Linked DNA regions of Homo sapiens: region 2 is linked to region 1. A link means that fine-mapping ties the variant in region 1 to the expression of a gene that starts in the linked region. Tissue or cell type: whole blood. Region 1 holds a variant in brackets; the other region holds the start of a gene. All regions are shown on one strand. Distances are between the middles of the regions.

The links. PIP is the estimated chance that this variant, and not a neighbour inherited with it, causes the effect.
Region 2: VPS13A starts here. The variant in region 1 is fine-mapped to the expression of VPS13A in whole blood (TOPMed, PIP above 0.99).

What each region holds. Positions count from the first base shown.
Region 1 is chr9:77,192,158-77,208,542 of GRCh38, reverse strand. It overlaps VPS13A (vacuolar protein sorting 13 homolog A), which reads right to left. Exons shown (of 72, transcript NM_033305.3): 2 at 8,555-8,598; 3 at 7,136-7,178; 4 at 3,135-3,230; 5 at 2,464-2,565. Among named protein-coding and RNA genes, the nearest start is that of VPS13A-AS1, 22 kb to the right of the region's middle. The variant C/T (reference allele first, on the strand shown) is at 6,099.
Region 2 is chr9:77,170,578-77,186,962 of GRCh38, reverse strand. It overlaps VPS13A (vacuolar protein sorting 13 homolog A), which reads right to left and starts at 9,429. Exons shown (of 72, transcript NM_033305.3): 1 at 9,159-9,429. The coding sequence starts at 9,258. VPS13A-AS1 (VPS13A antisense RNA 1) reads left to right here and starts at 9,046. Exons shown (of 2, transcript NR_026668.2): 1 at 9,046-9,336; 2 at 10,057-10,207. RefSeq lists silencers at 8,264-8,433, 9,416-9,710, 9,472-9,801, 15,596-15,890 and enhancers at 9,416-9,710, 15,596-15,890.

The sequences.
Region 1 (16,385 bases):
AGAAGAATAAAGAATTGAGGTTCCTAATTTTTTTGAAATATGCCTTTGATAATCATAGTTATTATCCTTTTTCTCCCCTTAAAAATGCCAATGAAAGCTATATTCTTTATTTCTAATTCTGTTCCTCTTTTCATATTTCTACTCCTATATAGAAATAATACATATAAATCTATCTTTTCCTCTAATTGCCTATTACTCTCAAATTCAGCTGGCCCAGGAGGCCTTAGATAAAGGAAAGCTGAAGATACTAATCATATGTACCTCAAATACACCAGAGTTAAATGAATATATATACATATAAATAGATTATAGAATTAAGTAGACAACAGAATACAAGCTCTTTAAAGACAGAGGATCATATTTTAATCTTTGACTCTCACCACTACCTAATAAAATCTTTTCTTTTATAAATTCATTTAGTCATTCGATTAAATGTTGTCTTTCTTTCTCTACCCACTACTTCCTCCTGACTTCCTTATGCAGCTCAGATTCCATGATATGTTATTTTACCAACACCTTAAATCCCTTTGCTCTTTTTTTGCATATTACTGTCAATAAAGTACCAATCCTGAATAAAACCAACTATCCATTTTACATGAAAAGCATATCAATGCCTATATCTTGCAGGGTAATGAAACAAAACACAAGATGAGTTTAAAACAAACAACAACAACAACAAAAATCCAAGTCACAGAACCCTGGAAAGACACAGGAACTGGAAACCCCACCAAACAAAAAATAGCAAACATGGAACACAGTGGAGAGAGAGGAAGATAACACAAGAACTGATTTAAATCTGTATAAGGAGCAGTTAAGTTAGGTCCCCTTCTCTCCCAGCCCAATATCCAAGCAACATCCCTTTCCCACCCTAGTGAGAACACAAGGGTTTATTTTAGAGAAAATGGCCCTAATAGGATCCAAATTTTGTACATGGGAGAACAGGGAGGTTAACTAAAAGCCTACAAAATAAACAGTCATACTTAAAGCCACTTTATTTATATATAAATAAAACATTTATATATAGCCATGATACTATTAACAATGAATTCTGATTTAACCAAAAATGTGACAGAACTATATAGAGAAGATGAAAAAATAGGGTCAATCTTCATAGTACATCATAAAAGGATGTGTGTGTAATATATATATTACACGTTATATATTATATATGTCATATATATGCCAATGAAACACGAGATGAGTTTAAAATATGTAATGTCATTAATTATATGTTATAAAATATGTTATGTTATAGATAATATGCATGTTATGTTACATATAACACGTTTTATATATATATATATATATATATATATATATATATATATAATATCTAAATAAATCAAGACACAGAGGTTTGAGCACCATATTTAGTAATATAGGTGCGGGCCTGGGCCAGGAACAGTTGGTTTTTTTTTTTAATCCGGACACTATAATACTGCTTAACTTTTAAAGCTATGTATATATATTATCTTGATAAAATAAAAATAATTTTTAAAAAGAAAAGGCCTAAGAGACTTAGGAAAGAGGACTGGAGGTAAGGATAAATGACTACACATAATATAAAGTAACTGTTACAGAGAAAAAACAGAATTACAAGAGATATTGCCAAGAATTACATGTTAAATCTCTATTAATGTTTGCCAACAAGTAAAACATTATTGAAGCTTATTATTTTTTATTAAAAGAAAATCAATGCATTTCAGAGACAGTGAAGTCAGTAAACTTTTTAATTTTAAGATGTTTAACTATTAAATGAATGACAGAGGAGAAGAACATAAACAGATGACTAGGTTAAGAAAATGACTTCATGTTTCAAGATAAAGAACAGCGTATTTACATGCCAAGGCAAAAAACCCACTAGGTGAGAGTTTAAAAAGTAGCTGGCAGTAAGGATCAGAGAACAGGTGAAAAGGAATTAGATTTCTTCAGGACACCGCTTCCAATAATGAAAAAGAGGTTGCAGTAATGGAACATATTGTCTAAGTTTAATTGGAAAATATGTGAAGCCAGAGGGTAAATAAACAGATAGAGGCAAATAGAAATATGTCAAGAAACTAAGTATCTCCAAAAGGGTGAAGAATTGATATAAAAGGAATACAAAAGCAAAGGCTAGAAAATTAAGAAAATATGCTTGATAAAATTAATTGCTATCATTAAAAACTGACCTTACCTAGTATGTATATGTGTGTGTGTGTATATATATATATATAAAAAATATGTAAACCTAATAATAATAATAAGCTAGACATATTATTTGCCTTAAGATAAATTTCCATAAGGTAAAATTCCTGTACACATAACAAAGCATACAAACCACATTAAAATTCCCCATGCAATGAGATTCTATCATATTTCTGAAATAATCTCAGCATCTCCAGAGAAAAATAATATTCAATTATGATAAATATTTAGGTCTTTTCTACTTCTCTTATTAGCATTGTTATTTACTGTTTTCTTTACCTTGATCAACTACTTTTTGTTTTGCTTCTTCTATTCTTTTCAGTTCCTGTTGCTTTGCTTCCATGAGTTGTTTCTCTTCTTTTAAAGGATCATATTTTATTCCTATAGGAAGATTAAAAAGGAAGAATCATAACTACCTTAAATTTAAATATAGTCATTCCAAAAAAATCCTTACAAATAATCATTAATTGGCCGGGCGCGGTGGCTCATGCCTGTAATCCCAGCACTTTGGGAGGCCAAGCTGGGCGAATCATGAGGTCAGGAGTTCGAAACCAGCCTGGCCAACACGGTGAAACCCCATCTCTACTAAAGATACAAAAGCTAGCTGGGCGTGGTGGCAGGCGCCTATAATCCCAGCTACTCAGGAGGCTGAGGCAGGAGAATCGCTTGAACCCAGGAGGCAGAGGTTGCAGTGAGCTGAGATGGTGCCACTGCACTCCAGCCCAGGTGACAGTGCGAGACTCCATCTTAAAAAAAAATAATAATAAATAAATAATAAATAATTCAAAGTTGCCAAAAATGTAGAGTAAAAACCAATTTAATTTGAATTAACAAATATCAAATTTAAATATTAAAATCTCAAAAAAATTCCAAAAGTATTTTGAATATAAATATTTTTCCATCCATAAAAAAGAATAACTTAAATTATAATTTTTTTAAATTTAACTTACTAGAAGAAGGCACTATAAGTAAATAAATTTCTTCCAATACGGCTTCAACAGGTTGAGTATAAAGGTTTTTCCATGGAATTATAAGTTTAAGATTACCTACATTTTTTTGGGAAAAAAAAAAAGGACAAAAAATATTACTCCTTCAACCTGCATTTATGGTTAGTCTATTTTCTGTCAGGCATTGAAGAGATAATAAAGTGGCCTTTGTCCTTAAGCGTTTAATCACTTTATTGAAAGCTATTTTACAACTACAAACAACAAGTGTTTGTTGTAATGATTTGAAATTATTGTATTTATATCAGTACTGTTGGAAAACCTAGATTATATTCGAAATATACAAGTTTCTATTTACAGTTCTCTGTACCATAAACAAAACAATGTTCTTCTTCCCTTAATCAACAATCCTTAATATCATAACTTTGAATTTCCCCAGTTCTTACTCTAAACCTATATTTTTTAATGCTTTAAGATGGTAGATTAGGCCAGGCGCAGTGGCTAACACCTGGAATCCTAGCACTTTGGGAAGCTAAGGCAGGTGGATCGCTTGAACCCAGGAGTTCAAGACCAGCCTAGGCAACATGGCAAAACCCTGTCTCTATGAATAAAAACTAAAAAAATTAGCCAGGCGTGACAGTATGTGCCTGTAGTCCCAGCTACCTGGGAGGCTGAGGTGGGAGGATCTTGAGCCCAGGAGGTCAGGACTACAGTGAGCCATGATCATGCTACTGCCCTCCAGCCTGGGTGACAGAGTGAGACCTTTACCTCCCCGCAATGAAAGGTAGATTGTATACTTTAAATAAGTGTGTGTATGTATATTTTTCATTATGTATATGTGTGTTACATACGTATGTATGTATGTATAGTAATTCACATATACACATATGGTAATAATCATACATATAAACTATATATATGAAAACTACACATAAAGTAATAATAAAATATTCTGGGTAATATTTGAAAATTATGCAAACTAATGAAAACATCCTAAGAAAATCAAACAGCAAAGAATTTTTTTTTTAAGCGTAAGGGTTCTTGAACTACAAAAACACTATGTATGGGGTTTCTTATACTACTCACTCTAGTTTTGTATCTTGAGAATATTTTCGTAATAGAGAGTTTTAAAATATTTTAGAATTGTTTAAATGGTATGAGTGTCTAGATTTATACAGCTGCCATAATTGTGTAAGGAATAGATTATTAAATATACTATGTTGCTAAAACTGGTTAGTGATTGGGAAATTTTTTTAAATCCACTTAGATCCATCTCATGATATTTTATAAACTCCATGTGTAGAAAACTTCAAACTGAGAAAAAGATTTCATCATATAATATCACTTCAGAGAAAAATGAACTATCTGATTTCTTTTTTATATTTTTTGTAGAGTCACAGTCTCACTATTTTGCCCAGGCTGGTCTCAAACTCCTGGCCTCAAGCAATCCTCTTGCCTCTGCCTCCCAAAGTACCGGGATTACAGGTATCAGCTACCCTGCCCGGCCTCTAAACTATCTGATTTCTAAAAGAGGAATAACTTTCTAAGTTTTTAAACCAGAGAACATGGGGATCATTTCAAATTTCTGTACAGACCAAAAATATAACCAAAATGAAATAATAAGATTGTGAAAAAACTGTAACAAATTTGACACGGTTAATTTATTTATAAATGTACCAACAGACTGCTTAAAATACATACAGTAATACTTCAAAAAAAGTAAATGAACAAAAGGACAAAGAGCAATTACAAAACTGTAAAAATAATAAACACATATTAACAGTGTGCCATTTTCACCACAAATGTTTTTTTAAAAAATCCAAACTTGACCAGGCGCAGTGGCTCACATCTGTAACCCCAGCATTTTGGGTGGCTGTGGTAGGAGGATCCCTTGAGTCCAGGAGTTCAAGACAAGCCTGGGCAACATGGCAAAACCCTGTCTCTACAAAAACTACAAAAATTAGCCAGGCATGGCGGCGTACACCTGTAGTCCCAGCTACTCGGGGACTGAGGTGGGAGGGTTACTTGAGCCAGGAAGGCATAGGTTGCAATGAGCCAAGATCGCACCACTGTACTCCAGCCTGGGCAACAGAGCAAGATGCTGTCTCAAAAACCAAACAAACAAACAAACCTTTTCTTCCTTCCCTTATAAAATGTAGACTCCTAGTAGAAAATTTGGCAAATTTCAAAAAAATACACAGATGTAATTCCAAAAACCTTCCACAGAAGACAACCTCTTTTATAATATGTACATGTGTATTTATATTTGATATATCTATAATTCTGCATTCTAAACGAGGGAAATTTTGAAAGATCAATACCCAATAATAGCAAGGGGACATACATTCCTATAAAACTGATTGTACTACTGTATCATTCATTTGGAAACATGTATTACTTTCATACAATAAATTGTGCCCCTACTATATATACCAAGTAATGTGCTAAGTGGTGAGGATACATTAAAAATTAAACCCACTTCTTCTCAAGAAACTCGATGTCTACTAGAAGGGGGAAAAAACAGTGATATTTTTAAAAGACAGGTGCTACGACAGAGGTACACAACACCTTAAATGACTCTCAAAATTATCTTGGGTTTAGTTCAGTGTACTTTCTACTATCTTATATTATCACTAAAAATTACCTTATCATTTTTAAACAAGATTAGGCAAGAAAAGAGAAGGCGGGCAGATTCTAAAGAAAATAGTCTATCTACTCTCCTGATATATTTTTTGACTGTTCTTGAATTGAGGTTAAATTTACATACACTGAAATACGACAATCATCACTGTAAAATTCAATGACCTTTGGTAAAAGTTTAAAAGTTATATAAAAATATGTATTGTAATACTTCTGTACCAATGGAAAAATAAAATTATTCTACAATATCCAAATATGCATTCACTGGATTATTATGGTACAGAATAAATGAGATCAAATCAACTCAGATTATGAGAAATCCTTTTTATA[C/T]GCTAATGAAAAAATATAAAACTGTAAAAATAGCATAATTACAAGTATTTCAATACATATAAACTTGTAAGTATTTAAAATGTACACATGTAAATAATCAGAAATATGAAAAAATTAAAATGTTAGGTAGATAAAAATGGGTGACATTCTCCCCCTCTTACAGTAAACAGTCTTTAAAAGGTAGGAGTGGGGAGGATAGAATTCTACTGTCAGTAACATATGATGATGAAAGTTTTCTATGGTATGTGGTCTAATACCAACCATAAGTACACATAATTATGAAGACCTTTATCATGTAATCTAGGTAACCTTTCAGAATACTTTGTTCCCCAAGTGACAACAGTATAGCTTCAATAACAATGTATACATCCTACCACAAAACTATCTATATAACAAAAATATCTCCAAGTCCCAACTAAAGACACTATTATCTTGCACAATATTTAAACCAGTAAAACTGTAACACAAGAAACATGACAGATAAGTTTTTATTAAAGATGTTAAAACCTCAAATTCCAATCATTTACTGCTCAACCAATATATTTAAGATATAAACAGTAAACACTGGTAAAAATAATACCAAACAAGAAAAAGCACAGTATTTTCTGAAACCATACAAAAACTTGCAGAGCAGAAATTAGTTTTCAAATCGGCCCCTAGTCACAGGGCCTGGATGATGCAGAACCTATTCTTTACACAATATATCCAATGTTAATCAAAATATAGCAGTGGTAACTAGACAGAAACCTAGGAAACTGAAACAGTTAAGCTCTCCCTTAGAGGTAATCCTTTGAATTAACTCAATTTACCACCTAAAGAGATATGTAATGTATTAGGATATCAAATACTAGGCAAGGGATATATGTATCGGACAATATTTTTAAGTTGCACAACAAAGCTCTACTGAGACAAAAACACATGATTATTTTTAATTGATGCTCAGAAACATGAAAAATATCACATAATAGATATATTAGGCAAATTATTCTGGCTGCATGTCCAGGAAGGAGGATATCCCAATAATGAATATGGCTTACCTATGTGACCAACTTTAACTTTAAATGGTACATCCAGTTGACTCTACAGAAAAAATTTATATATACACAAAACATTAGTAGATATAGAGTTTAACAACATAAATGAATACTCTTTACTTCCAAAAATTATTTCAAGGGATTTTTTAATAAACTTACACATTTCCTTATCATCAACATTTATTTAAATATATAAACATATAACTGCAATATTACTATCAAATCCATAAAATCCAGGGAAGCTGCTCTTTTAATAATAATTGGGGATAAAGGTCTACAGTAAAAATGACCAGAAAATCTACTCATATCAAATCATTACCAATTTTATATTATTTTAAGAAAAAGAAGTGGCAATTACAATGTCATTTTATGCTTTTAGGGAGATTAAAACTCTATTTTGCAAAATACGCGTTTTGTAAAAAATAAACTTTCAAAACGTTCTCCCCATTCAAAGAATAGCCTTTTAAATAAATGGTGCTAGGAAAACTAGATATCCACTCGCAAAAACATGAAACTGAACCCTTATCCTATACCATATACAAAAATTACCTCAAAATGGATCTAAGATCTAAACCTAAGAGCTAAAACTATACAACTCTTAGAAGAAAACATAAGGGAAAATCTTCACGACATTAGATTCGGTAAAGACTTCTTGAATATGACAATAAAAGCACAAGCAATTAAAAAAATGAACTAGTCTTTATCAGATTAAAAACTTTTCAGCTGCTCAGGAGGCTGAAAGGGGAAGACAGCTTGAGCCTAGGAGCTGAGGCCTACAGTAAGCTATGATCACACCACTGCACTGCAGCCTGGGGTGACACAGCATGAGCCTGTCTTAAAAAAAAAATCAGAAAACAAGTTAAAAATTTGAAATAAAAACATCTGTATTTTTTGTATGTTTGTTTTTGTTTTGTTTTGTTTTGAGACAGAGTCTCACTCTGTCACCCAGGCTGGAGTGCAGTAGCACGATCTCCATTTACTACAGCCTCCACCTCCTGGGTTCAAGCGATTCTCCTGCCTCATCCTCCCTGGCAGCTGGGATTACTGGCGTCCACCACCATGCCTGGCGAAGCTTTTTGCATTTTTAGTAGAGATGGGGTTTCACCATGTTGGCCAGGCTAGTCTCGAACTACTGACCTCAAATAATCCACCTGCCTTGACCTCCCAAAGTGCTGGGATTACAGGCATGAGCCACCATGCCCAGCCTAAAACAATATGTATTTTTAAATAGAAAAAAAATCACACTGTCCATTTGTGCTTTCAGGGAGATTAAAACTCCATTTAGCAAAATTTACATTTTGCAAAAATTATTTACAAAAAACTTTCTCAAATTTAAATAATTTAAGGTGACAAACTGAATCAGGAAGAATTATACATAATTAAATGCAATAACTTTACAAATTTTTCATAGTCAAAACCTACCAGGGCATTTTCTTTAATTTGAAGATTCTTGAGGGCCACAGCTCCTAAAAAAGATTAAAAAAAAGATTCAAACAATCAAATATTTTTCATTTTAAAAAGTTAATATGTATGCTTCATTCCTGTCATAATCAGGAAAAATATATAAATAATGTGCATAACAGATAATATAATCTGCCTATAATCTTATTATCTCACCTTCATTCTTCTACATAGTCTAACAGAGTATGCTTGACCAAATCTTCACTAATTGTATCTTTTGACCTCTGCAATTGTAGCTCAATGTTAATATATACAAACATTTTAATCAGAATTATACAAATGAGTCTAACAAAGTAGCATGATACAAGATCAACATGCAAAAAGTAAACTACATTTAAATATACTTGCAATAAACCATTGAGAAAAAATTATTTAATGCAAAATCAGTAAGCCCCAAGATACGTAAATAAAAACTTCCCAATTCAAAGCCAATAAAAAAAGAAAATGAGAAAAATAATAGAACAGAATGTCTAAGAACTATAGGACAATTGCAAAAGCTGTAACATACAGGTAATGGGATTAATGAAAGTTTAAAATACACTGCTATAACATTAGGATGTTACATGTAACCCCATCGTAACCACAAAGAAAATACCTTTAGAACATACACAAAAGTCATCCAGGCATGGTGGCAGGCACCCGTAGTCCCAGCTACTTGAGGAGGCTGAGGTGGGAGGATCACACAAGCCTAGAAGTCCAGCCTGGGCAACACAGCGAGACCTCATTGCTATCTTGATGTTAATATTAATTATGTTATTAGTTAATTAAACACAAAATGAATCAAAGTTGCTATAAAAAATTAACTAAACCAAAGGAAAGGCACTAAGGGGTAAAACAGAAAGAAGAAATGCTGTAAGACACATAGAAAGTAATTAGCAAAATGGCAATATTAAGTCCTTCCCTATCTGTAACTACTTCAAATATAAATGGCTTAACTCTCCTACAAAAAGACAGATTGGCAGAATGGATTAAAATAAACAGGATCCCAGCCGGGAGCGGTGGTTCACGCCTGTAATCCTGGCACTTCGAGAGGCTGAGGCAGGTGGATCACCTGAAGTCAGCAGTTCGAGACCAGCCTGACCAAAATGGTGAAATCCCATCTCTACTAAAAGTACAAAATTAGCCGGTCGTGATGGTGCATGCCTGTAATCCCAGCTACTTGGGAGACTAAGGCAGGAGAATTGCTTGAACCCAGGAGGCGGAGGTTGCAGTGAGCCGACATCACGCCACTGCACTCCAGCCTGGGCAACAGAGTGAGACTCCATCTCAAAATAAATAAATAGAGAGAAAGAGAGAGAGACAAAAAAAATAAAAGTACGTGGTCTACAAGAAACTCACTTTGGCTCTAAGGACACTCATAGGTCAAAAGCAAAAAGATTTAAAAAAAAGTAAGCCCATGCAAAAATAACCAAAAGAGCAAAGATACCTGGGCATCACTAATCCAAAACTCCAAAATCGGAAACTTTCTGAGTGCAGACATAATACCACAAGTGGATGATGAAGATAAAGATGATGATGTTACCAATGCAAAAAGGTACCTATAGACCACATGGTACATGGTGAAAATGTGTGATGGGCTTATTAAAGGACTGGAGCAGCAGGCATTCATAACAGAACAATAAATTATGACAGTTTATAAAATCAGAGACTTCTCAGACAAAAAAGAGTTAGTGAGGCAGATGGTTCTGGAGGAAACATTTTTAAAAGCCATCTAGCAAAATGCCTCCTCATCCCCTGAGGATCCAATTCCGGGCCCCTCAACTGCTTCTAATGTTTCTTCTCACTTGAAAAAAAAAATAAATAAATACAGTACATTCTACAGTTACCTTTTAATCAAAACACAGCATTGTAGGTGGAGACTGAGAGCCTGCCTGCCACTGTTTGTTGCTGCTGCTGTTTAACAGTGGATACATATATTCCCAGTGATGCTACTGTGCTGCTTACTCACCCTGAACACACTGTATTTTCACTGAATTAATGGTACCTCATATGTCTTACTGTTAACAACTTACGTGTGAATAAATGTGAGAAAATTATTGCTGATCAGCATATAAATTCAGTCAAGAATAACGATGATGCCAAACAACCACAGATTGTCCACATGGGCAGCTGAGACAGTGACGCCTTTCCTTTCTGATGGTTGAAGGTACACAAGCTTTGTTTCATGCAGAAAATTATTTAAAATATTGTATAAAATTATCTTTGGGCTATGTGTACAAGGTATATTTGAAACATAAATGAATTTTGTGTTAGACTTGGGTCTCATCTCCAAGATATCTCATTATGTATATGTACGTATTCTAAAATCTGAAGAAAAAAAAAATCCAAAATCCATATCACTTCTGATTCCAAGCATTTCAGATAAGGCATATTCAACCTATACTAATATTAGACATATAAACTTTAAGTCAAAATCTGTTACAAAAAACAAAGAAGGGCATTATATAATGATAAAACCGACACTTCACTAAAAAGATGTAACAATTATAAACATGTATGCACCAAACATGAGACCAGCAAAACATATGAAGCAAACACTGACAGAATTGAGGAGAGAAACAGATAGCACTACATTAGCAGTAGAAGGCTTCAATACCCCACTTTCAGTAATGGACAGAACAACCACACAGAAGATTAATAAGGAAATATAGGACTTAATACTATTGACCAACTGGACCAAAAGACACATACAGAACACTCCACCCACCAACAGCAGAATACACATTTTTCTCAGGTGCACATGGGACATTCTCCAGGATATATGTGAGGTCATAAAACAAGTGTCAAAATTTTTGTAAAGAGAAAAGAAAACATACAAATGGTCAACAGGTATATATATGAGAAAAGGCTCAGCATCACCCATCATCAGATAAATAAAAATCAAAACCACAAGAAGATATTACCTCAACCTATTAGACTGGCTATCATCAAAAAGACAAAAAAATAAATGCTGGTGTGACTGTGGAGAAAGGGAAACTCTTACACACTGTTTTTGGGAGTATAAATTAGTACAGCCATTATAAAACACACTATGGAAGTTCTTCAAAAAATTTAAAAATAAAATTACCATATGATCCATCATTCCCACTAATGTATAAATATCCCAAAGAAATGAAATCAGTTTGTTGAAGAGAAACCTGGACTTTATGTTTATTGCAGCACTTTTCACAAAAGCCAAGATATGAAATCAAGTGTCTACAAACAGATGCACTGCTAAAGAAAATGTGGTATATATATACACAGTGAAATACTATTCCCCATTTAAAAAAAAAAACAAAACAAAACAATATAATCTTGTCCTTTGCAGCAACACAGACGCACCTGGAAGGCATAATGCTAAGGGAAATAAGCCAGGCACAGAAAGACAAATACTGCATGATTTCACGTGTGAAATCTAAAAAAGTTGACATCTCATAGAAGTAGTGTATAGAATAGTGGTTGCCAGAGGCTGGGGAATACTGGCGAGAGGGGAAATAGGTAAAGATTGGTCAATGAGAATAAAGTTACAGTAAGATGGGAAGAATAAGTTCTGGTGTTCTATTGCACAGCAGAGTGACTATGGTTAACAATACTGTATTGCATGTTTTAACATAGCTAGAAGAAAGATTTTGAATGTCCTCACCACAAGGAAATGATGAATGTATAAGGTGATGGATATTCTAAATACCAATTTGATTTTTATACAATGTATACATGTATTGAAACATCACCCTGTACCTAATAAATATGCACAATACATGTCAATTAAAAACAAAATTGTAAAATTATAAAAGATTGACGTTATGCAAGGTATCTTTTCTAGTAACAATAAATAAATAAAATAAATAAGGAAATAACAGATGGAAACAGAACAATGAACAAATATATGAAAATTAAGCACTCTTAAATAAGAAACGGGTCAAAAAGGTAACCCCAAGAAAAATTAGAAAATATCGAGATGAAAATAAAAAGACTGTACCATCATAATTAGTATGATACAGCAAAAGCAGCGCTAGAAGGAACATAAAGCTGTAACTGTTTATGTTTAAAAAGAAGAAACATCCCAAATCACCACCTAAATTTATTCCTTAAGGAAATAGGGAAAAAAACAAAACAAAATGCAAACCTAGCAGAAGGGAGAAAATAATAAAGATCAGAGCAAAGATAAGTGAAAGAGAATGGAAAAAAAATAAAAATAAAAATAAAGCATTCGTTTTCTTTTTTTTTCTTTTTTGAGACGGAGTCTCGCTGTGTCGCCCAGGCTGGAGCGCAGTGGCACGATCTCAGCTCACTGCAACCTCCGCCTCCTGGGATCAAGTGATTCTCCTGCCTCAGCCTCCTGAGTAGCTGGGATTACAGGGGCCCACCACCATGCCCAGCTAATTTTTGTATTTTTAGTAGAGACGGGGTTTTGTCATGTTGGCCAAGCTGGTCTCGAACTGCTGACCTCAAGTGATCCACCCGCCTCAGCCTCCCAGAACGCTGGGATTACAGGCGTGAGCCACTGCACCGGGACACCGACTGTTAGTTTTCTAAAAAGATCAATAGGTTGGGCAAGGTGGCTCACGCCTGTAATCCCAGCACTTTGGGAGGCCGAAGCAGGCAGATCACGAGGTCAGGAGATGGAGACCATCCTGGCTAACATGGTGAAACTCGGTCTCTACTAAAAATACAAAAAAATTAGCCAGGTGTTGTGGCGGGCACCTGCAGTACCAGCTACTCGGGAGGCTGAGGCAGCAGAATGGCGTGAACCCGGGAAGCGGAGTTTCCAGTGAGCCGAGATTGCGCCACTGCACTCCAGCCTGTGTGACAGGCTTATACCATATTCAAAAATTAACTCAAAATGGATCCAAGAGCTAAATGTAAAACTGAAAACTATAAAACTTAGAATAAAGCATAGGGAGAAAGTTCTGTGACACTGCATTTTGCAATGATTTCTTGGATATAACACCAAAAGCATAGGCAACAAAAGAAAAAAAATAGGTGAATTGGACTTCGTCAAATGTTAAAACTTTTATTCCTCACATGACACTATATACAGTGAACAGACAACAGAGAGGAGTCAGGGTGGCCAAGTAGACACAGAGTCAGGAAGAGCTTCCACCACCAAGAGACCAGGCCATCAAGAAGACCAGCACACTCTGAGCAGATCTTTGGAAGGAAGGCACTGAGAGTGAACAGAAGGAGGATGCGGATCCTGGGCTGAAGGAGGAGAAAGCTGGGAACCTTACAGGGAGCTCCCCTAGCACCATGACTCATTCTGACCCCAAATGCTCCTGGGGAAAGGATGAGTTAAACAGGCATGGAGTAGCCTGTTCTTGTCATGGACCTCTAGAATCCTAGCTGAAGGAGGCTCCATGACCCCTACAGACATTTGAGGTTGCAAAGACAGCTGCTTGGGAAGTTGGCAGAAACAGGACTCCAGTCTGCACGGAGCCCAGAAGGCCTGGTGTGGGAATGGCTGCAGTGGAGCATGGCCAGGTATGTCCATCTCCCAAAGCTCACCACACACCTCTAGGTAGCTTTGGTCTTTGCTGACTATTGGACCTAGACAGAACAGAACTATCTTGCCCATGGCACAGGGCTTGTCAGATTTGAGCGCCCCCCCCAACCCCCATCCCTGGTTGCCTGTTCCACAGTCCCTGCCTGGCCACATCCAATTGCAATGGACGCTGATGCCCAACCGCAGCACTTCCCGACAGCCACCACTATAGCTCCTTTGCTGGCAAGCCCCAGGTAACCACCAGAGAGCACCTGCACATGGGCCTCCACCAGCATCCACCCACGCACAGCTTCCCCGCACTGTTTTGCCAGGACACCGTCACCCACAGCCTCCCCCGACGGCTTTTCCAATGTATATGCAGGCCTTACCACCCTACTGTCACCACCCCAACCAAGCACTTTTGCCGGCCCCACCATCAGAGTGTTGTTGCCCAGCAGACCGGGAACACCTTGGCCCCACCAGTGCAATGGGTGCTTAACCTCGAGGAGACAGAGAACAAAGTCATGTGCCTAGTCCTAACACCCCAGGGTTATAGCATGCATGCCAGGAGTGCTGAGCTGAGCCTTGGTACCCAGAAATCATCAAGAAACTATGCCAGTCGACTAAACTCAACTTATATCAAGGTCAAACCCTTGGGGCATCCAAGAATATAAAAGCAAAAAGCCTCATTCAAAGGATAGCAACTGGAGAGATTAAAGGAACATCAGCCCACAAAGATGAGAAAGAATCAGGGCAAGAATTCTAGCAACTCTATAAGCCTGAGTGTCTTCTTACCTTAAAATGACTGCAGTAGCTCCCCAGCAATGGTTCTTATTTTATATATTTATTTTTTTGAAGAGAGAGTTTTGCCCTGTCGCCCAGGCTGGAGTGCAGTGGCATGATCTCGGCTCACTGCAACCTCCACCTTCCGGGTTCAAGTGATTCTCCTGCCTCAGCTTCCTGGGTAACTAGGATTACAGGTGCCCACCACCACACCCAGCTAATTTCTATATTTTAATTAGAGACAGGGTTTCACCATGTTGGCCAGGCTGGTCTTGAACACCTGACCTCAAGTGATCCGCCCGCCTCAGCCTCCCAAAGTGCTGGGATTACAGGTGTGAGCCACTGTACCCAGCCTAGTGATGGTTCTTAATCACACTGAAATGATGGGCATAAAACTCAGAAGATACCGAAATTCGGGAGAAAGTTGAAACCCAATCCACGGAATTTAAGGACTCCAGTAAAATGAGTCAAGAGCTGAAAAATGAAATAGTCATTTTAAGAAACAACCAAACTGATCTGACAGAGCTAAAAAACTCACTACAAGAACTTCACAATATCACTGGAAGTATTAACAGCAGAACAGATTAAGCTGAGGAGGGAATCTCAAGAACTTGAAGACTGGTTCTTCAGTATCAACTCAGACAAAAATAAAGGAAAAATAACTTTTCAATGGAAAAAAATCTCCCAAAAACATGAGATTATGTGAAGAGATCAAATCTACAACTCACTGTTGTCCCTGAAAGAGAGGGAGAGAAAACAAGCAACTTGGAAACATATTTGAGGATACTGTCCACAAAAATTTCCCCATCCTAGCTAGAGAGGTTGACATGCAAATTCAGGAAATTCATAGAACCCCTGCAAGATACTATACAAGATGACCATCCCCAAGACACATAATCATCAGATTCTCCAAGGTCAATGTGAAAGAAAAAAATAATAAAGGGAGCTAGAGAGAAGGGGTAGGTCTACTACAAAGGGAATCCCATCAGGCTAGCACCAGACCTTTCAGCAGAAATCCTACAAGCCAGAAGAAATTGGGGGCCTAATTCAGCATCCTTAAAGAAAAGAAATTCCAACCAAGAATTTCATATCTAACCAAACTAAACTTCATAAGTGAATCAGAAATAAAATATTTTCAGACAAGTAAATGCTAAGGGAACTCATTACCACCAGACTTGCCTTTTAAGAGGTCCTTAAGGGAGTACTAACCATGGAAATGAAAGACCATTACCGGCTACCACAGAAACACACTTAAGTACAGAGACCACTAACTCTATAAAGCAACTATACAATCAAGTCTGCATACCAACCAGCTAACAACACGATAACAGGATGAAATCAGCACATAACAATATTCATCTTGAATGTAAACAGGCTAAACATCCCACTTCAAAGGCACAGAATGGCAATTCATATGAAGAACCAAGAACCAATTGTATGTTGTCTTTATGAGACCCATTTCATATGCAATGCCACCCATAGGCTCAAAGTAAAGGAATGGAGAAAGATCTATCAAGCAAGTAAAACAAAAAAGGGCAGGCATGGGTA
Region 2 (16,385 bases), 22 kb after region 1:
ACTTCAAGTATTCGAATTTACAGACATCAAAAGTAGAATAACGGTTACTGGGGTCTGGGAAGACGGTGGAATGGGTAGTCATTGCTTAACGGGTAAGTGGTTCAGTTTTGCAAGATGAAGAATTCAGGAGATGAATAATGGTGAAGTCAGGAGATGAATGGTGGTGATGGTTGCACAATGTAAGTGTACTTAATGACATGAAGTGTACACTTAAAATGGTTAAGATAGGCCGGGTGTGGTGGGTCACACCTGTAATCCCAGCACTTTGGGAGGCCGAGGCGGGCAGATTACTAGGTCAAGAGATCAAGACCATTCTGGTCAACATAGTGAAACCCCATTTCTACTAAAAATACAAAAATTAGCTGGGCATGGTGGCATGCATCTGTAGTCCCAGCTACTTAGGAGGCTGAGGCAGGAGAATCGCTTGAACCCAGGAGGCAGAGGTTGCAGTAAGCAGAGACTGCGCCACTGCACTCCAGGCTGGGCAACACAGCAGGACTCCATCTCAAAAATTAAAAAAAACAAATAAATAAAGGAGTTCTTCAGAAAGAAGGAAAATGATTTAAACCAAAAACTCAGATTCACAGGAGCATTAGAGAATTAAGAGATGAAGGTAAATTAAGTCTTTTCTTCCTTATTCTTAAATTAATAGAAAAATGTCTAAAATACTAATAGCAGCAATGCATTGGATTATTACAGCTTATAGGTAAGTGAAATTAATGACAACAATGTTACAATGGGCAGAAGGGAGGAATCTGTATACTGTATTGTAAGATAGAGTATTACATATACTACCTCCATTTTCCATGAAGTAGTATAGTGGGATTTTTGTTTTTGTGTTTTTTGAGACAGAGTTTCGCACTGTCGCCCAGGCTAGAGTGAAGTGGCACAATCTCGGCTCACTGCCTCCCAGTTCAAGAGATTCTCATACCTCAGCCTCCTGAGTAGCTGAGACTACAGGCGCACATTACCATGCTCAGCAAATTTTTTGTATTTCTAGTAGAGATGGGGTTTCACCATGTTGACCAGGCAGGTCTCGTACTCTTAACCTTAAATGATCCGCCAGCCTCAGTCCCCCAAAATGCTGGAATTACAGGCGTGAGCCACTATACCTGACCTATAATGTTATTTGGACGTGGACTTGGACTAGTTTTAAGTGAACAGCACAAACTGTAATACAACCACTTAAATAAATTGTTTAAGAAGCATAATTGGTATGCTAAGACAGGAGAAAAAAATTAAATCATATCACATGATCAATTAAAACCAGAGAGGGCAAAAGAGGAGGGGAAGACTGTTTAAAAAGGAAACAAGTATAACAAAACAGAAAACAGCTATAAATATGATAAGACACTGTCAAAGGAAAATAAAGGTTTTTCTCTCTACTCTCATATTCGACACAGAACCCTTAGATAACCAGATATGTGAAGTTTTTCCCCCAATCCCTAAACAATTCTCCAACAGACACTAACTATAATTCAATTAAATAATGACACTATCTACCTAGAAAGGGTGTCATATCGAGCCGGGCGCAGTAGCTCACGCCTGTAATCCCAGCACTTTGGGAGGCCAAGGCAGGTGGATCACAAGGTCAAGAGATCAAGACCATCCTGGTCAACATGGTGAAACTCCGTCTCTACTAAAAATACAAAAAGTAGCCTGGTGTGGTGACAGGCGCCTGTAGTCCCAGCTACTCGGGAGGCTGAGGCAGGAGAATCACTTGAACCCGGGAGGCGGAGGTTGCAGTGAGCCAAAATTGCGCCACCGCACTCCAGCCTGGCGACAGAGCGAGACTCTGTCTCAAAAAAAAAAAAAGAGATAATGTCATATCCCACATGGTAAGGGCTCAGTTCCATAAGACTGCCCCTCACTTCAGATGTCAGTCACAAGTCGCAGGCTGTGATCTGTGCTTCTGATTGACCAGCTATAAATCAGGGTTCGCACCTGATTTTATTTGGTTTGATAATTTGCTGGGATAACTCACAAAACTCAGGGAAATACTTATATTTAACAGTTTATCATAAAGGATATTACAAAGGATACAGATAAAGAGATGGACAGAGCAAAGTAAGGTGGTGGGGAGCTTCCATGCCCTCCCTGTTGTGGACTTTGGTATCTGCACAGGTCTTGGAACTAAACCCCTGGAGATACTGAGTGCTAAACATACACGTCATGACCAAATGGGATTTATTCTAGGTATGCAAGGCTAGTTCAACATTCAAAGATCAATTAATGTAATGTATCACACCAACAGATTAAAAAAGAAAAAAATCCTGTGATAATAGTAATAGATGCAGAAAAAAACATTTGACAAAATCCAGCATTCTTTTGTTTTTGTTTTTTTGAGACGGAGTCTTGCTCTGTCACCTAGGCTGGAGTGCAGTAGCACGATCTCGGCTCACTGCAACCTCCGCCTCCCATGTTCAAGCGATTCTCGTGTCTCAGCCTCCCAAGTAGCTGGGACTACAGGTGCCCGCCACCACACCCAGCTAATTTTTGTATTTTTAGTAGAGACAGGGTCTCACCATGTTGGCCAGGCTGGGCTCGAACTCCTGGCCTCAACTGATCTGGCCACCTCAGCTTCCCAAAGTGCTAAAATTACAGGCATGAGCCATCATGCCTGGCTCCAACATTCTTGAAGGAAAAGAAAACACTCTCAGCAAAGCAGAATAGATGTGTATGTATGACAGAAAGAAAAAAATTAGAGTATTTGTTGCCTCTGAAGATGAGGGTAGGAATAAATTAGGAAAGGTCAGGAAAAAGACTTTCTGGGGTGATGGTCATGTTCTATATCTTGACTGGGTTTGAGTTACATGTGTGTATGTATTTGTCAAAACTCAGTCAATGTACACTTAAGATTTGTATATTTTCTTCTACATAAATTTTACCTCAAAAGGAAAAAAACTAAGCAAATATTGCACTCTAATGATACACATGCTGAAGTATTTAGGAGGAAATGAGCTCATCTCTACAACTTATTCTGAAATACATTTAATAATATGAATTGCTGCATGGATAGAGAGATGGACAGATGGACAGGTATGTGACAAAACATGTGTGGTTAAATATTAATGGTATTCCATTATATGGATATGCCAGTTTGTTTATCCATTCACCTGTTGGTGGATACTTGGACTGTTTCCCATTTGGGGCTATTAAAAATAAAGCTGCTATGCACATCTGTGTGCAAATCTTTGTATGAACATATGCTTTCATTTCTCTTGGGTAAACATGTAGAAGCACAATGGCTTGATAACATGGTTGATGTATGTTTAACTTTTTAAGAAATTGCCAAACTGTTTTCCCAAGTTGTTTAACATTTTACATCCCCAGGAGACATATTAACAGAGTTCCAGTTTTTGCACATCCTCACCACCACTTGCTATGGTCAGCAATAAAAAGGAATAAATTATTGATTGTACTACCACATGGATGAATCTCAAAATAATTATGCTGAAATAAGCCAGACTGAAAGAATACAAACTGTACAATCCCATTTATCCAAGTCTAGAAAACTCAAGCTAATATGCAGTAACAGAAAGCAAATCAGCAAAAACCTGGGGACAAGAAGGGTATAAGGGACAAGGAGGGTTAGAAGATACGGTTTACAAAAAGGCACAAGGAAACTTCTAGGTATGACAGATATGTTCATTATCATGTGATGATTGTTACCTGCATGCACATATATGCTAAAACTTATCAAATTGTAGACTTTAACGTGTATTTTACTGCATGTTAATTATACGTCAATAAAGCTGTTAATACATAATATTAATGACAGAATCTAGATAATGGGTATATGGAGAGGCACTGTAAAATCTCCTAACACTTTTTATAATAAAATGTTTCATAGTCTTTAAAGTTTTATTAAAGTATCTTAGAACATAAATATAAAAATAATACATAAGGAATTAGAATTGGTCATTAACACCAGACTGTAAGAATCATTTGTTTGGCTCCCTAGTGTATTCTGGGCACAGAAGAATGACTCCTTAAAAATCGAAAACTGTATCCTAACTGAATCTTCATCTTTTGTACTGCTTCTGGTATCATGGCGGTATCCAGCTAAGTGGCCACTAAACACATGATTCTATTATAAAGGGAAAACTGGGAGATTAACATTTCAAAAACAGAATACGTATGTTAGTTAATAGACAAGAAATCTGAACTTCTAATGTTACATAAAGATGTCAGGCATTATCAAAAAAAAATTACAAATTTGTCCAAGTATTGTGATTTCGGAGAAAACAAAATAGAGACAAAGGAGGCTAACTTAAGAAGGGGCTATGAAGTACAGGTACTTCCTGTGTTACAAATGATAATTCTATCACACAAGCCACTTTTACTACTGCTTTTGTCTATTTAAAATTCTAATACTTTTCCCCTTAATGTTCTCTTAAAATGTACCCAACTGTGCATCAAGTCCCCAGTGTCATTTGTTTAAAAAAATATTTTCATGTCCTACTCCAGATAAATAATTTATAATCTCTGGGGGCAGGTTCTGTATTCATAATAAGCACCTATGGCTGATTCTGATGCAGCCTAGCTCTTAAAGAAAATATGTGAAATGGCCGGACGCAGTGGCTCACACCTGTAATCCCAGCACTTTGGGAGGCCAAGGCAGGTGGATCACTTGAGGTCAGGCGTTCGAGACCAGCCTGGTTGACGTGGTGAAATGCCGTCCCTACTAAAAATACAAAAATTAGCCATGCATGATGGTGGGCACCTTTAATCCCAGCTACTCGGGAGGCTGAGGCAGGAGACTCACTTGAGGCCGTGAGACAGAGGTTGCAGTGAGCCGAGATCGCGTCACTGCACTCCCACCCGGGTGACAGAACGAGACTCCGTCTCAAAAAGAAAAGAAAAAGAAAAAGAAAATTGCTGGAGAAAGTTGGGAAGATAAATTTCAGATGAGTCTATGAAATATTACCACCTCTCTAACTAGATGATATATGGGAAGGGAGAATTATAAATAGAAGTGTATAAAAAGTATACCTTACCAACATCAAAATTTGCCAAGAGTCAGTCCTGGAATGAAGCTCAATTCCTTTTTCATCCCCTGTAAGACAGAGTCTTCTAGCAGTGAGTCTACTTACTGTATTGAACCCAGTACAGTAGCACTCTTCTGCTGCATTATAGTTAAACAGGTTTTTGGAAAAGTCCTCATTCATATATAAGAATGCTTCCATGGGAAAAATGCATTCTGATTTCCAAAGAATCCATCTCAGCAACAAATTTTCAGAGCACCATCCATTATTAGCAATGACTGAATACTAATTGATACTATTATAGTAACATGCTAATATTGAAATTTGCTGGATTATTTCAGAAGCCTAGCAAAAGCACACATTTACAACTACCAATAGGTCCTTCACGTTAGACCATAAAATATTATCTTAAAATTTTCCTATGCAGCATCCAGTTTCTTTTTTTTTTTTTTTTTTTTTGAGGCAGGGTCTCGCTCTGTTGGCCAGGCTAGAGGGCAATGGTGTGATCTCAGCTCACTGCAACCTATGCCTCCCAGCTTCAAGTGATTCTCCTGCCTCAGTCTCCTGAGTAGCTGGGATTACAGGCGAGCGCCACAGTACCCAGCTAATTTTTGTATCTTATTTTTTTCGTAGAGATGAGGTTTCACCACATTGGCCAGGCTGGTCTGAAGTGATCCACCCTCCCCAGTCTCCCAAAGTGCTGGGATTACAGGCATGAGCCACTATGCCTGGCCACCTAGTTTCTATTACAGAAATTTTCAAACAATGTTTTTAAAAAATCCTCCAAATTTATCAAATTACTACTTTTGAAATTCTCAAAGAATATTTTAAAAAAATACTCCAGCTATTATTTAAAGTTTCATTTATCAAAACATAACCAATTTCTATAAATAAAACACTGACATGTTATTTTATTTTATTTTGAGACAGAGTCTCGCTGTCTGTTGCCTAGGTTGGAATGCAGTGGCATGATCAGAGCTCACTGTAATCTCAAACTCCTATGCTCAAGCAATCTTCCCGCCTCAGCCTTCCAAAGTGCTGGGATTACAGGAATGAGCACCACACCTGGACAATGACTTGTTATTTTTTAAATTATTTGTTAAAGACTAAAGTTAGAGGGATCACATTACCTGATTTCTAGACTAACTACAAAGACACAGTTATCAAGACAGTGTAGTATTGGTGAAATGATAGACACACAGATTGAGACAGACTAAAGCCACACAATATTAAGTCTACTGATTTTTTTTTTACGAAATGCAAAGATAATTCAATAGAGAAAGGATCCTCTTTCTTAGCAAGTGGTGCTAAACAATTGGATATTTGCATCCACATGCAAACAAATGAACCTCAACCTTCAACACATATCACACACCTTATACAAAAAGAAATCCAAAACCTAAAACTACAAAACTTCCTTAAGAAAACACAGGAGAACATCTTTGACTTTGGGTTGGGAAAAGATTTCTTAGATATGAATACCAAAAGCCATGATTCATAAAAGAAATGTTTTATAAACTGGGCTTTTCCCAAAATCAAAAATGTATGCTCTGCAAAAGACAAAATGGGAAAAGACTGAGAAAGTATTTTCAAATTACATATCTGATGAAGAAATTGTATCCTTAATATTTAAAGAACTCTCAAAACTCAACCATAAGAAAACAAACACTCTGGAAAAAGAGTTTGGCTGTTCCTCAAAAGGTTACACAAAGTCAGCATATGACCCAGCAATTCCACTTCTAGGTATATATCCAAGAGAATTTAAAACATACATCCACAAAAAAACTTGTACATGAATGTTCAGTGGCATTATTCATAATATCCAAAAGGTGGATGTTTAGGAATAATCTAAACATCCAGCAACTGGTGAGTATAGATAAATAAATTGTGGTCTATGAATATAATGGAATATTATTCAACCCTAAGAGCAAATGAAATAGTCATACATCCTTCAACATGGAGGAACCTTGAAAATACATTAGGTTAAAGAAGCCAGAAACAAAAGGCCACATATCATATAATTCCATTTAAATGAAATGTCCAGAATTACCAAATCCATAAAGACAGAAAGATTAGTGGTTGCCAGAGGTGGAGTAGTGAGAAGGGAGGAAATTGGGAGTCACTCCTAATGGACATACGATTTAATTTTGGGGTGCTGAAATATTCCGGAATGAGAGAGTGGTGATGGTTGTACAATTTTGTGACTATACTAAAAAACACTGAATTGTACATTTTAAAAGAGTGAAATTTATGGTATATGAAATAAATCTCAAAAAAAAAAAAAAAACGTACAACCCAATTTAAAACCACTCTTAGGTATTTATCCAAGAGAAATAACAATTATGTTCACACAAACACCCGTACGTGAATGTTTATGACGGCTTTATTTATAACCTCCAAAAACTGAAATATTCTTCAACCAGCAAACAGATAAATACTTACAGTCAGGCGGGCGCAGTGGCTCACGCCTGTAATCCCAGCACTTTGGGAGGCAGAGGCAGGCGGATTACTTGAGGTCAGGAGTTTGAGACCAGCCTGGCCAACATTGCAAAACCCCCTCTCTACTAAAAATTAGCCGGGCGTGGTGGCGGGGTGAGATCAACTGCAAAGGAGCAGCTGAGAGAATTCGGGAGGCTTGATGAACCTTTTATGTGCCATTATTGTGGTGGTGCATACATGCCTCTTAGCATTTGTCAAGACAGAACTGTATCACAAGAGTGAATTTTACTGCATGTAAATTTTAAACAAATAAATAAGTTGATTAATCACACTCTAGACAAACCTCCACCCTGAATGTGGAAGCAAGACTCCACTACAGATCAAAGTTCACCTCAAGTATTCTTAAGGCTTCCTTCTGAGGTACATGGGAGACAAATTTTATTTTCACTTTGCAACTAAGAAGCAGCATAAACAGACTGCAAGTTTCTTGTACTAATCAAACAGGCTGAGCAGCTATCACTATATCCCTAGCTTTTGTAGTCCACTCACTCTCCATCATGATACTAGGTCCCCACGGTAGTAACATTCTTTAAAATCAAACTAAACTACCTGTTTACATTATCTCATAAACGAGAAGAGTCAAGGTAAGTATTTTAGAAGAAGACTGGAAGTGTGTGCACAGACAAGAATAAATTACTTTAAATATATATTTAAACACACACACTTCACACACAAAATTAACCCTCACTTTGGCCTGGGAAATTCATTTCACAAAGGAGTCTAATTTCTAGCGGGTGTTTAAAATAAACAAGCGCATAATGCAAAAACAGATGGAAACACTAAAAATGAGGCTCTCACTAAGGCAGAATACCACACTAAACGGACACAAGGAAAGCTCGGTCCTTCACCACCTAGGCAGCGTAGGGCCCTGTTCAGCCCGGTCTTTTGCAGGTCTGAGACGTTGCACCGCACGCCCTGGTTTTTCTTTAAAATTCGGCAATTCACTCTGACCCACATATCCTAAAGTCTTGAAAATGTTACACATTCCTAGGTCAGGCTGTTAACTGCAACCACACAAGCAACTGTTTGAGTTACTTTGCACTTGAGTTTCCTTTTTGTTATCCGCCGAACCCAGGCGAGAGAGAGCCGGCGTCCGGGTCCTAGGGCCGGAAGGGGGAGAGCAGAAAGCACCACGGGTGAAGCCAGGAATTGAGGCTGGGGAAGCAAGGAAGCGGGCGTCCCCGGTCACAGCGCCCTGCCTTCACGTGCGAGGCAGCATGCAACACGCGGGGGATTTCTGGGGCCTTCGTCATAAACCCAGGGGGGCAAAGGACAGGGATGGGACCCAGCCCAGGAAGGCGTCGTCTCGCCTCCTCGCCCCGCGCGGCTAAAGCCGGACCGTGCGGGGCCAGGGGTAGAGAACGGCCCCTCGCCGGGACTTGAACGCCAGACCCACGGAGCCCACGGCAAGTCCGCTCCGCTCGGAAAATATAGACCTTTTCATCCCGCACTCATGACCCTCTCCTTTCCCCCAAAATATAAACAACTCGAGGGCGGAGGCCAGGGAACTGCCGCCCGGCTTTACGTAACTTGACCCACAGGCGGGCGGCGGCAGGTGGCTGCACCCGGCGAGCAAGGTGCTCGAAGCCCCGAGAACGCAGGACGCCGCTCGGGCAGCGAGACGGCCGGGAAGCACGAGAGGCCGGGGAGCGGCGGCGGCGGCCTCCTTACCTTTCCAGATGCCCAGAGAGAGCTGGGACGTGTCCAAGTCCACCACATAGTCCCCCAAGAACCGGTTCAACACGTCCACGACCACCGACTCGAAAACCATGTTCCTCAGCCGTGGTGGGCACGGCAGCCGGCCCGTGCGCTCCTCCTCCCGCCGCCTTCCCCACGCCCCTCCCTCGAGGTAATTCGGTTCACCGGCTCCGGGGCGGCTTCAGCTGCGGCGCCCCCGCTGGCCCAACGCGCAGCCCTAGCGAGCCCAGCGAGAGACGGAGGCGGTCGCTCTCACGACGCGTGCGCAAGTCTGCGCGCGGCTGGAGGCGGAGCGCGGCGCAGACCTGGGCGCGCAGCCCTGAGAGGGAGGAAAGGCGGCTGCGCGGCCGCGGCTCTGGAGGGTGCCCTTTTCGCGCCGAGCCCGGCTCCTCTTTCCTGTCGGCCCCGCCTCCTCCCCATCGCCTGGCAACGGGACACCGGTCTGGAGCTACCGGATTTTTTCCGACCCCGCCCCCTCCTGCAGATCAGCGTCCCCAGCGGCCCCCCAGGGCGGGGCGGTTACGCCCGACGGGAACGCCCCTCCCCCTAGAAGGTGGTGGCCGCTTCCACGCGTATGACAGGGCTCGCCCCTGAGTAAGGGTGGGCGGATCCCAGCCCCGTCGCCAGAAGCTTCAAGGGGGCTGTCCCAGGGAGCATCTCCCCTCATCATTACAGGGTGGGAGGGTCCAGCCAGCCTGGGTGTCTTGGTGCCTGTAACCTCCCCGCCTGGTCCTCCGACCGCCTGGCTCTCAGGAGGAGTTAACTTCCTGCTGCGAGTCGAGGATGGAGTTACATAGTCCCTGCCCTGCATCTGAGATGAGCACCCATTTTTGGTCAAGTCATTTATACGGAGCTGTCTTTCATTCCAAAGAGTAACACGCTTCCCTGCAGATAAGAGTTGGAGTCAGCCGGTCTGGAAACTGCTGAACACCCTCCAAGAAATACTGGGAGTGCTGGACCCTTGACCCCTATGCCTCCACCGAACCACTGACCTAAAATAAATTACAATTACAGATCTTTCGACCTGTTTGGTCTTACTTAGAAGTAATCCCAAAGGCCTGAGGTCACAGAGATGCTAAATGTGAGGTTTAGAGAACTGTAATTAATCATCTGCAGGACCGAAAAAGTGTACATTGAGCGTTTTCTCTTTACACGTTAAATGAATAATGATGGATTTCTATTAATTCCTGTGTCATTTTACTACTTTTTGTGCATAGTCACCGACTTTTCAAAATTAAATGTTTAGGGTGTGCCTTTGCAAGTAGAATGCCTGACAAAAACTGTAAGTTTTTACCTGAGTTTATGAATGTTTTTCATATAATTTTATATTTGAAGGACCTTTATGAGGTCTCCAACCTCCTAGTCTTAAATATAATGAAGCTGAAGTGTTAGGGATGTGTGCAAGGTCATACAACCAATGTTCTGTGGAAGAACTGGAACTTGGCCCTTCTGATTGGCTACCACCCCACCTGCTTCTCTCTCATTCAGCTAACAGTCTGCTTCAGAATACCTGCACGGAGAAACGAATAGAGGCTAAAATGCCTAGGAAGGGGAAGAGCTCTACATAATGAGGCATTTTGCCATTGCACTATTAATAAGAAGCCAGATACACAGTAGCTGCAAAATTCCGCTGTTATATCTAGCGCTGCAAATTCAAAGTTACAAGAATTTCCAGAACTCCAAAAATCCATCTTAAGTATCTTGCAAACGTTTTCATATTAGTTTTCTACGATCTAGGAAAATTTTGTGGAAGTGAGGAAGGGGAAGGGATGTTGCTGAAAAGTTAGAGGTATAAGCATAAAGCAATGAAAAAAAATTCTGCTGAGGAAGAGTTAGAAATAAGTGGATGCATATTGTAACCGAATTCTTATCTAGTGTTAGATGTATATGAACATGCTTTGTAAATACTAAAAGACAACATTTTGCATTCAGTCTTTGCATTGCTTAATCCATCTAAGGAAGTTTGTAAGCAAAAATATATTAACATCATCATGTAAAAGGTATGCTCATTAAACCATTAAACCAAATTTCTGTTGTACCTTGAAAAATAAGCCCAATGACTACCATAAAAACTCGAGTTTCAAATTAGGAAGTATGTCAGTGTATGTTATTCTTTCTCTAGATCACAATTAAAATGCTATACTTCATTGTTTGATCAAATGGAAAAACAAAAGAGGGGGAGAGCATCTGAATGACCCCAAACTGCAATATCATCTAACTTTACAATAAATCTCTAACTTTGCAAGTAGGACTTGCAGTTTTATGTATACCTTCCATGCCACAGCTCTTCGTCTTTAAAGTTTTGGTGTACTGGTAGTAATCTTGGAATTTTTTTTTCTCCTAATCTTAATTCTTTTGTCCACAAGTAAATGTCATTGGTGGGCTGCTTGTCCTTATCATTCCCCATGGGCATTGTGGTAGCAGGCTAGATGGCCAGATAACAAAGCTGTTGAAGCAGACCACAAAGCTGTTGAAGCAGAAGATGTCCTGGAGGAACAAGTGTAGAAGATGGCCGTTTTATAGGTATGGGACTTTTACTGATCTAACTTCACAGAGCCCTGTGCTCCATCTGTTTATGCTTTAAAAATTTTAAACAATAAAAAGTTATTTGGAGCCTGGCATGGTAGCACATGCCTGTAGTCCCAGCTACTCCAAGGGTGAGAGGATCCCTTGAGCCCAGGAGTTTGGGGCTGCAGTAAACTATGATGGTGCCACTGCATTCCAGCCTGGGTGACACAGTGAAAAAAAAAAAAAAATTCTTTAGACCATGTGTTCCAATCCTTAATAAAAAGAGAAAAATTCACTGGAAGGGGAATACAAGCAAAAAGGTAAAAACCTTATAAGAATCTTACTTAAGGCCAGGCACAGTGGCTCATGCCTGTAATCCCAGCACTTTGGGAGACCGAGGCAGGTGGATCACCTGAAGTCAGGAGTTCGAGACCAACCTGGTCAACATGGCGAAACCCCGTCTCTACTAAAAATACAAAAAAAAAAAAAAATTAGCCAGGCATGGTGGCACACACCTGTAATCCCAGCTAGTCAGGAGGCTGAGGCAGGAGAATCGCTTGAACCCAGGAGGCAGAGGTTGCAGTGAGCCAAGATCACACCATTGCACTCCAGCCTGGGCAACAAGAGCAAAACTCCATCTCAGAAAAAAAAAAAAAAAGAATCTTACTTAAGCAGGGCAGGGGAAAATGTAAATTGTCACAATATTTCTAAAAGGCAGTTCCTAAACATTTACAAACTGACATAGTACATATGTGTATATATATCAGCGTACATACATATATATACGTACATGTGTATATGACGAACTCAGCAATCCCACTTCCACAGATTTACTCTAAGAAAATAATTATAAAAATCCAAAAAATTATTCCCACAAGAACTTTTTTTTTTTTTTTTTTTTTTTTTTTTTTTTTCAGAAAGAGTCTCGCTCTTGTCACCCAGGCTGGAGTGCAATGGTGCGATCTTGGCTCACTGCACCCTCCGCTCCCAGGAGGGTTTAAGCGATTCTCCTGCCTCAGCCTCCAAGTAGCTGGCATTACAGTCGGGTGCCACCACACCCGGCTAATTTTTGTATTTTTCAGTAGAGACAGGGTTTCGCCATGTTGGCCAGGCTGGTCTCCAGCTCCTGACCTCAAGTGATCCACCCATCTCGGCCTCCCAAAGTGCTGGGATTACAGGCTTGAGCCACCAAGCCCAGCCAAGAACACTATTTAAAGCATTGTTTATAATAGCAAAAAGAAATGGAAACGACCGAAATATCCATTAACAGGGAAGCTGGTTAAGTAAACATACACACGTAGTGGGTTACTATACAGGCATTAAGATGATAATGAAAGTCTATACTAGTGTGGAAGGATGTCGATAATATATGCTCATGAGAAACAAGGTGCAGAATAGTATCCCACTAATTATACAAATTGGTGAGTTTTTAAGTGTGCAGAGCATTTACATACAGAAAGAAATCTAGAAGTATGCTCACCAAATATTAACAGTGGTTATCTCTATATGGTGAGACTTTTGGCAATGTGTATTTTTTCTGTTCTTTCAAGTTTAATTTTTTTGTAGTGAGCATGTATTATTTTGCCCTTCTAAACTGGTGAAGAAGATGTATCAGAAATGCTATTATGTTGTATGTTATCTTATAACTCTCTGGGAAAACTATGTATGCACATTGATGAATTGCTGTGAGCGGGTTCTGAACCTTATCGGATAATTGATAGACATGGATGTGAACTCTCAAAAGCCTACCAAAAGACATGAGCAGACATTTCCTGAAGAGTATATACAGATGGAAACAAGCGCATGAAAACATGTGCAACATCATTAGCCATTGGGGAAATGAAAAGTAAAACCACAATGAGATATCAGAATATCTTATCATATTATATCTATCAGAATGGTTGGAAAAAATAGTGACAATACCAAGGCTGGTTAGGATACTGAGAAACTGGATCATTTATTCACTGGAGGTGGGGTTGTGAAATAGTTAAGCGCTCTGGAGAACAATTTGGCAGTTGCCACAAGAACTAAACATGCACTTACTATATGACCCAGCAATTGCACTCCTGGACATTTATCCCAGAAAAATGAAACCTTATAGATCACACAAAAACCTGTACATGAATAGCCAAAACTTGGAAACAGCCCACATTTTTTTCAACTGGTGAATGTTTAAACAAACTGTGGTACATCCACACTGTGGAATACTCAGCAATAAAAAAAGGTGAACTATGGATACATGCAACAACTTGGATGGATCTCAGGGGAATTATGCGAGTGAAAACATGTATTATTATATTTGTGAAACACTCTTGAAGTAACAAATTTATAGAGATGGAAAACAAATTAGTTGTTGCCAAAGGTTAAGTATAAGTAGGATGGATAGGTGCGGCTACATATGGATAGCAGGAAGGAGCCTTATGTTTATGACACACTTCTGTATCTCGATTGTGGCAGTGGTTATATAAAATTGCATTAAACTACACACACACGTAAGTGCATATAAAAGTGGAGAAATCTGAATAATCTCCATGGATAGTACCAATATCTTTATTTTCTTATTGTGATATTGCATTATAGTTATATAAGATGTCACCATTGGGGAAAACTGGGGTGAAGGGTATATGGGACCCCCCCTATAGATTTTTTTGCAACAACTCTCTATCAAAGTATAATTATTTTTAAAATAATTTTTGAAGGGTTTGCTGAGTCAAAGTCAACTAGGAGATGCCCCAGAGAATGAGATAAGCCTGAGAGTTAACAGCTCCTACATAATAATTTAATATCCCTGCACGGGGTGCCTGGTAAAAATATTCAAGAAAGAAAAGTATCTGAATGTGGTGACTTACCAGCATGTATTGAAATATCAATTATGCTGTGATCCCGGTAAAATACTTGAAAGAGGGATGTACAATAAGGGACTCTCAAGCAACTTCCTCTGACTCTAAATACTTAAAACACCTGAGCTCTTCCCAGAAAAAGAGGGTACCAAATACTGATGTCCACCAGTGCTTTTGATCTCAGATTTTAACATGGCTGATATTAAAAGCTGATTCCTTGTGATTCAGCTCTGTGCTCAGATATCACCTAATCATAGAGGTGATGTCTTCCCTGACCTCTCAGTCTCTAGTGGCCAGCAGTTATGCTCTGCCATATCACTTTAGCAGCACCTTAATCTAGCTGGCATTTTTTCCAACACTTGCAGAATCAGCATTACCTCACTATCTCAAAACAGTCAGAACCAACTTCATTGTTCCCCATCCTTAGAAGTTTGCTTCTCAGAACTCAGAGGCACAAGGGCCAGTCAAGCATCCCCTCGCCTCAGAAGTCTGAGTTTCAGTTTGAGGGCCCCTCTTCTAAATTTCCAAGTCTGTCCCTTTGCTCACTGAACCCTTGGGGTTGTATCTGGTTTTTGCAGTAACTGCCTCCTCAGTACCTTAGAATTCTCTCTTTACCTTTTCACTACTTAATTACTTATCTAGTTAACAATTCTGTACGTACCTATATCTATAGAAAGGGGAGTTGGGGCCTGCAGCTGAGTCTGTGCAAGGGAGATGTTTGGCTGAGAGAGGGAAGCCATGTAATCAAAGGGAGTAAATACAAATTATGACTGAGGAGGGAAGCCAGGCTCAGGGCCAGAGAGCTGCTTAAGTGTCAGGACAGGCAGCAACTGCTAGTCTATAAATAGGTAATGAGCCCAAGGGTCAAAGGTTTGGATAATCAAGAACAGGTCAATCAGTGCAGTATGAAGTAGGTCCAGGAGAAGGATGGAGAGGTGGGGCTGTGCATGTGGCGTGCTGAGAGTTTGTTCTTAATTGCCCTGTGGCACAGGGGCAGTGGGCTTAGATAGCTCACTCTGAACTGAATCCACTGATACCACTGCCCCTCCTTGTTTGTTCAGCCCAACCTCTCCATTTGTGAGCCAATATTGATTTAGACAGGATGTGAAAGACCTCCCAGAATGAACTCTCTTCCTCTCTGGACTTCCAAATATTGACCATGATCTTGATTTCCTGCCTCTGATTTCTTTCCCTCCTTTGTGAACCATTGACTGAACTAGAAGCTCTGTGTTCCATGTGTGTGTTGCTATTTCTGTTAAGCCCTTCCCCAGAGCCTGGACCACATGTCAATGTGCAGTTCTAAGGACAGCCACTGTCACTCTGCCTCACCTACCCTCCCCTACTTATCTGTTAATGCAAGTAAAATAAAACATACAGGTAGGAAGCACTGACCAGGATGGAGTGGGGTGGGAAAGTCCCGGAGTTAAAGAGCAGTGAAAGTCCATTATGGAGATTTAGGCAGGAGGTAATTATAGATCTCAACTAGGCCAATGCAATTCAAATGAATAGAAATACATTGATGTGATGGAGGTCATAAACGTGGAATTTATAGCCTTCGAAATTGATTAACTGTGGTAAATGAGGTAAATATAATAATTCCAAGATTGTGTCATTTATAGCAACTGAAACATGAAAACAAGACATTGGTTTTATAGGAGATGATAAAGAATTTTAGTTTTAGGTTCCATGAGATTTGAAATCTAGGGGAAAATATTTGGGACAGAGTGTAAATAGTAATTCAGGAGGAAATGTCTAGTGTTAGTTAGAAATTAAGGAATGGGGTTCCAGTGAGAGTCTAGAATAAGAGATGAAGGCTTGGGACTCCCTACACAGAAGCAACCGTTGATACTCA